Homo sapiens: one gene and its partner. The protein of the gene in region 2 purifies or fractionates together with the protein of the main gene of each other region. This does not show direct contact. Each region holds a gene or a part of one and is shown on either strand. Other genes may lie near its edges.

The links. Proteins that work in one complex are often made in the same cells at the same time.
Region 1: the proteins of CA2 (region 2) and NEK10 purify together in Homo sapiens (co-immunoprecipitation; one large-scale study listed by IntAct). This does not show direct contact.

Annotation. Positions count from the first base shown.
Region 1 is NC_000003.12:27,110,884-27,114,383, forward strand, and holds part of NEK10 (serine/threonine-protein kinase Nek10), read right to left. Parts: intron 3,416-3,500; coding exon of another isoform or gene 3,397-3,415; exon of another isoform or gene 3,343-3,396; intron 438-3,342; coding exon 389-437; 3' UTR 1-388. UniProt on the Homo sapiens protein: Plays a role in the cellular response to UV irradiation. Mediates G2/M cell cycle arrest, MEK autoactivation and ERK1/2-signaling pathway activation in response to UV irradiation.
Region 2 is NC_000008.11:85,467,007-85,470,506, reverse strand, and holds part of CA2 (carbonic anhydrase 2), read right to left. Parts: intron 1-3,500. UniProt on the Homo sapiens protein: Catalyzes the reversible hydration of carbon dioxide. Can also hydrate cyanamide to urea. Stimulates the chloride-bicarbonate exchange activity of SLC26A6. Essential for bone resorption and osteoclast differentiation.

The DNA of each region.
Region 1 (3,500 bases), on a different chromosome or scaffold from region 2:
CAATTCTGAGTATCAAATGTGCCTTTGAAAAATATGACAAGTTTTTTTTAATGTTAAGGAAAATTCTGTAAGAGAGTTTTTTTGTTGTTGTTTTTGGGTTTTCCCCCCACCCTCCAAAAGATGAATTTTGCAGCATTTTCTCCCAGCAGCACACTGGTAGCTCTGACATCCTGTATATAATGTGTTCTGGCAATGAAGCCCTCAAGTACCGCAGCTGTCATATACTCCAGCACAGGACCCCCAGAAAGAAGTCCTGCAGGCCCCATGGCATCTTGGTCTTTTCCACACCCTCTAGCAGCACCCAATCCTTGGGCATCTTGCAATAGCGGCTGAAGTCCAGAACTTGAACTTCACTGAGAAAATCAAGTCCACTCAAAATGCAGCATTTTCATCTTTTGGTTGGGTGATTCTTGGTCCCCCATGGATAGGAATGATACCTATAAGATTCAGAAGTGGAAAGAATTCTCTATAGTTACAAATATTTTAGTTCATACATTCAATTTCAAAAACTGGGGCTCAGGCATATAAGTAAATAAATCACAGTAAATAAAAAGACGATTATTTTTGTTAGGATGGGGACATTTTTAAAAAGCTGCCTTTGGCTGAAGTCTGGTGCTAACAAGGCCTTTCTCAAATTATGAACTCAATAGGAACTGATAACACTTTGTAGTAGAAAAACAAATATTCATTCAAAATAGCTTGTATACTTGAATACCTGTGTAGGTTAAAATAACTAATTTACACGCTTATCAGTCAATTGGGGAAATAAAACAATTCAAGTTGATTCAATGTAGATTTGTTATCTTGTATACTGTTATTTCTCAACACATTTTATTATTAAAAATAAAATATTAATGTAATACATAAGTATATTCATAAAGATTATATGCTCATTATCTGTTTATTCATGACTCAAATGATTTTATCCTCACAAACAACAATGATAAAATTAAGGCATATTAAGTTGCATCCTTCTGGTAAGCAAGCTAAATGCTTATGTATATAAAACGTAATTTATCATACAACCATGCAAATGATCAAAAATAGAGCCTGCTTTGGGAAGAGCTATGAGGCTGGCCAAGCCTTTTTGACCTTCTTTAACTTTCTTTACACAGCTTTCTTCCTTCCAACTCAGTCCTAGCTCCCTTTTTCCCAGAAGCCCAGAAATGAGAAATACCCAACCTTGGTCAGAGGTCCTTGCTGCTCTTTCTGTTCCTGTTACCATTTTCTTTTCCTAATGCAGCATTTTATGCCTGAGACATTCTTCCTAACTGTCCAAGCAGTCTCCTCATGATTTAAACAGTTCCAGAAATCTTCCTCAAAGATAGCTAACAGATAGATAATGGCTTTATCCTGAGACTTTCAGTCTGAAAATGGCACCTCTCTATTCTCTTCCTTAACTAAATATAAACCCTATAATTTAAACCAAAAATGTACCTTATCTTGAATTAATCCTTTAGTGACTGGCTGGCTAGATGATGTGTGTACTATTCAAACTGATAGTCTTAAATTGTAAACTTGAATAACACCGAAATTATATATGTAACTTTCTCAGCACGGTGCTTAATTCATTTAAGAACAAATTTTGCAATGACGATGATGACAATGATGACCATGTCAATGAGAACAACAGAGATCTGGGTAGACCCTGGTGAAGGAGTGAAAACGGTGTTCCTCATTTCCAACCACATAGCTAAAACAGCTTTCCTCAATTGTATTCCATGTAAAGAGTGAGGAAAACACTGAGGTCAACAAACAAGGTCAACAGATTTCTTTCTTATAGTACATCTCAGAGTCTTTAATATAGTAATAGGTGTCAACATTCTCCAAATATAAAAAATTGTACATTCTGAGTTTCCCAAATATATGTGGCCATGAAACTTTATTTTTCAGAGACTATCTATTGACATCTTTGATAATATTGCCCATTCTATGAAACCTATTGGGGAAAAATGCAGTCTACTAATTCTAAATACTGATTCTAAATACCTCTACATATGCTGTGACATTTAGCACCCTCCATCCTTTGTGGAAAAAAGCATGACAGTACCAGCTAATCTGATTTGTACTTGGAGTTATGTGTTATTCACAGTTTGTGGATTAGTAGGTGCTTCTAATTGAAGCCTGACTTATTTCTTGGAAATTATTTTGGAATACTAGTAAACAAAGAGTGGCTTTAGGCACAAACAAGGGTTATTTTTACAAACAAATTCTGGAGAGTTTTTCTCCCAAGATATGTTCTATCATTGCTATTAGAAGCCAAAAGGGGGTCGGGTGTGGTGGATCATGCCTGTAATCCCAGCACTTTGGGAGGCCAAGGCAGGTGGATCACCTGAGGCCAGGTCAAGATCAGCCTGGCCAACATGAAGAAACCCCGTTTCTACTAAAAATACAAAAATTAGCCAGGTGTGGTGGTGGGCGCCTATAATCCCAGCAACTCGGGAGGCTGAGGCAGGAGAATCGCTTGAACCCAGGAGGTGGAGTTTGTAGTGAGCCAAGATCGCACCATTGCACTTCAGCCTGGCCTGAGCAACATAACGAGATTCCATCTCAAAAAAAAAAAAAAAAAAAAAAAGAAGCCAAAAAGGGAATACCATGGATATATGGATTTTTAAATGTGATTCATTTTAATTTGGAGCACTTTAAGAAAATTTAATGCAATACCCAACTTATATTGCTTAAACTTGACTGTTTCATCATACCTTCATAATAGATTCACAATTACAAATATAACTGAATAATTTTTTGCCTTTGTTATAAGGCATCTTATTATCTGTTTATCATAATAAGAAAATTTGCAATGTCTTTTAATAAAGCCATATGTCTTTGGAACTAGATCGGTTTAAAACCTAATGAAAGTAGAATTGAAAAAGAATAATGATAAATTCCAAAATAAGACAAATATTTTTTAATAAAGGGAAAATAAAAGTTCTTGTAAGAGCTTCCTTAAGTTCCTTGCACACTTAGTTTTTCTTGATATTTAAATGATTTTCTGCAAAAAATATGAAGACATTCCTTGCCCATGATCCCAAGTCTCTGAGAAAATGCAGATAAAATGACAAGAGTCATCTTTTCCCCAGTACAAGCCAAGGGCACTTGAAATAATGAGGCTCACAGTTAAAAACAGAAACATTCATACTATCCATGATAGTATGCTTATGTATGTAAAATGTAATTTATCATACAACCATGCAAATGATCAAAAATAGAGCCTGCTTTGGGAAGAGCTACGAGGCTGGCCAAGCCTTTATGACCTTCTTTAACTTTCTTTACACAGCTTTCTTCCTTCCAACTCAGTCCTAGCTCCCTTTTTCCCGGAAGCCCAGAAATGAGAAATATCCAAACTTGGTCAGAGGTCCTTGCTGCTCTTTCTGTTCCTGTTACCATTTTCTTTTCCTAATGCATATACTCAGCCCTTGAATAGAAAATGAAAATTCAAAAATCTCTCCAGGGATGGTGGGAGGAGAGTAGTTGTGGAGATGGTAATTTCTATTGACGGT
Region 2 (3,500 bases):
CAGACTAAAGACCGTAATGAATGTCAACAGTTTCTCCTAAGTCCAAAATATAAATAAACTAGTCCCAGTAATCTTTAGTTTAAAAATAAAATTTAAATGATTTCCTACTAATAAAGCAAAAGATTAATTCTACAGAAAACATGTCATTTTCGGTACCATCTTTTCTATAAATAACCTGAAAAATTTTAAATCATGCATTACTGTTTTGCCTGTTGGCAGCAGCCAATAATCCTAGGGCTACGTGCCAATATAGACAAATCTGGGGGGAAAAAATACACGTATTCCATTTGTTTTAAAGCAATAAGATGTTTAGCTGTCACTTTCGCTAGAGTAAACACAGTTGAAATTCAACAGAAGTCGTGGTTTAAACTATGTGGCAATTATATAGGAGTAAAAAAAGAAGCTGTTTTGATGTGAATATAGTAACTACAGTGTTTAGAATATGTTGGTCCATTTTCTAGATATTTAAGGTTCGGCTGACACCATTACTGCGTGCATGACAAGCCCTTTCATTTGTTGTTATGCTTTCTTTTAACTTAGGACTGCTGTGAAAGAAAACTTTTAGAGCTTCAAAAGCAAGTCCCTGAAAGTCAAGCAGGATCCATGTATGAAGATCCATTACGTCATACAGACAATGGGTCACTTAAAAAGAGCACAGGTAAACTCATCCAGCTTCCTTTACTCTTTTCTTGAAATAACAAACAGATTTAAAAAATTCCAATTTCTGAAAAACAGAAATGATGTAAGACTTGGATAAGAGTTGGCCCAATAATTCTGGCATTGACTTTCAATATTTGTCCCTAACTTTGCAATAAAGCAGGAGAGTATTAAACTCATTAATAAAAGTTAATAAGTTAGCAGGAGTTAATAATTTGACTACTATTATTTTCTCCCAGATAAGGCCATTAATAAAACATCTCAAGCAGGGTGAGTTATTTTTTAATAAGTTTTTTAAGAACCTAAAGGGATTAGCAATTTTTCATTAACTTAAGGTGAATTTATGGTGGCTTATTTTCAAAGGAATTTAGAAGATTGATGAGAGCTCTAACCCAAGTTTCTAGTTAAATCCTATTAACTCCGTAGTTTAAAAAATTCTCTCAAGCTTAAATCAGCAATAAAGTCAACCCGCTCAGTTCCTGATACCCAAGTTCTTAAGTTTGGATATAAGAGAACATTTAAAGCATATTGGAAAACCTCAATCTATGAGAAGTTCTAGAAGGCTGAAATCTCATTGAGGCAAAGAAGACAGGTAAATGAACTGCATTTAAATGCAGGAAATAAGAGGTATAGGAAATCTAAAAATGTTACCACCACAAAAATAACTCCTAATAAAAAGAGATGTTAAACTGCCGATTTTTTAAAATTAAGTGACTAAAATAAATAACTTTTTGACTTGTGTACAGAAAAAAATGCCAGCTTTTAAAAAACATGGTATGTATAAACTAAATGTCAAATAAGGTTATCCTTCAAATATTTTTATTCAAAATTCTATTTTTAAGTGATTGCTACTTAGTCCCTCCAGCAAACTAGCAAGGAGACGACTTAGCAAGTTATTTAAACTCTTCAGCTTCTGTTTCTTCATGTTTATTAAGGTGAGTTTAACTAGAGTATCTCTATTCTTTGTTTTGGCTTTGAGAGCCTAGGATTGTTTTATTTAAAAAAAAAAAAAAGAAAGAAAGTCTAAAGGGAGTTTTTCCACATGGTTTTGTGTGTGTGTGTGTGTGGTTTTTTGTTTGTTTGTTTGTTTTGAGATGGAGTCTCGTTCTGTCACCAGGCTGGAGTGCAGTGGTGCGGTCTCGGCTCACTGCGACCTCCGCCTCCCGGGATCCAGCGATTCTCCTGCCTCAGTCTCCTGAGTAGCTGGGATTACAGGCACATGCCACAACACCTAGCTCATTTTTTGCATTTTTAGTACAGACAGTGTTTCACCCTGTTGGCCAGGCTGGTCTTGAACTTCTGACCTCAAGTGATCCGCCCACCTCAGTCTTCCAAAGTGCTGGGACTACAGGCGTGAGCCACCGTGCCTGTCCCCCACATGGTATGATTTTTAAAAATTTATTCTGTAGATGTCTTTTCTCTTAATATTGACATTTTAATATATTCTGCATTCTTGTTTAACCAAAGTAACTGAAAATGTGGAAAAGAGAGGCAAAATTACAAAGGAATCTTTCATATGCAAAGGAGGGCAAGTCCTTTCTGACCTTGCTTTTAGTATACCTTCTTGCCTTTCTGGAGCACATGCTGTGCTCTCTTAAGTCTCCTGGTATTTCCTATCTCCCTTTGCCTGGACTCTCGTCCAAGACATCAAAATCCTTCAAGCCTCCACATAAGCCTTATTTACCCTGGAAAGTCTTTCCTGTCTTATCAGTTAAACTGCCAAGCCTCCTTCACGTTTCCATAGTTCCTTGGAGTACTTCCTTTCTGCACTTATCAAAGTGGCAGTCAGGGTCTACTATTTCTATGTCTTTCTACTTTAGATATTTCCAGCATGGGCTCCGGGGAACAGGAGAGGGACCAGGCCTCCACCCTGCTTTCATGATGCTTAGCTTCCCATGCATTTAAGTGGTGTTAATAATGACTTTTTTGTAGAACTAGGTGGATAATACATGTGTCTCTAAAGGCATGGGTGGGAGCTCCTACCGAAACCCTGTGGTTTTCATCTGTTTCACAATCTAAACATGGCCAACTTCTTTAAAAATGTATGCATTGCTCTCCAGAAGAAATAGCTGTGAAAAATGTAGCTAGATCTAATTAGTTACTGCTTATAGAGAAATCTGTCAAAGTTTAACAGATTCATGGTAAAATATGTAACTATATAATAACTTCATACATAAAATAAGTACATATTCAGTATGATAAACAGTATGCTTCAGAAAATATAAAAATAAAAATTTAAAATACATCAAATGATGGGAACTAATCTTAAAGCTGTTAAAGAAAAAGTTTATTCAGAAATCTTATCGCAGGTGCAACATCTACAGCAATGGTCTAACAGAGGTGGTCGAAGGGTTCAAGTTGTGACAACAACAGAGGCCATTTATTGAGCAACTTCTATGCGCCAGGCACTGGGCTAGGGGCTTTACATATACTGTCCCATTTCATCCTTCCACTGTGGCAGACACTATTGTTACTCCAACTTTACAGTTAAAAACAATTAAAACCTAGACAGTATTACTCCCAAAGTCTCTGAGCTAGTTGCCGGCAGCTCTAGAACTCAAATCCAGGTCTCTCTGACCCCAGTCTATGCTGATAGCCACCAGACCATGTGTTCAAATCCACTTTCCAGTAATACATATTACTAGAATAATTTATTTCACTATCCATTTTTTAAGGACTATTAGGAACCTCATCTGCTTTCATTTGTTGGAGATTTGTTTCTTCAGTGCTCCAAAAAAGACTTAAACTATCCAATTTCTATGTAGCATCCAATGAGATACATAATTTGGCAGACATTACATCCATTGAAAACAATGACATCATTGTGGCTCTTTAAAAAAGTA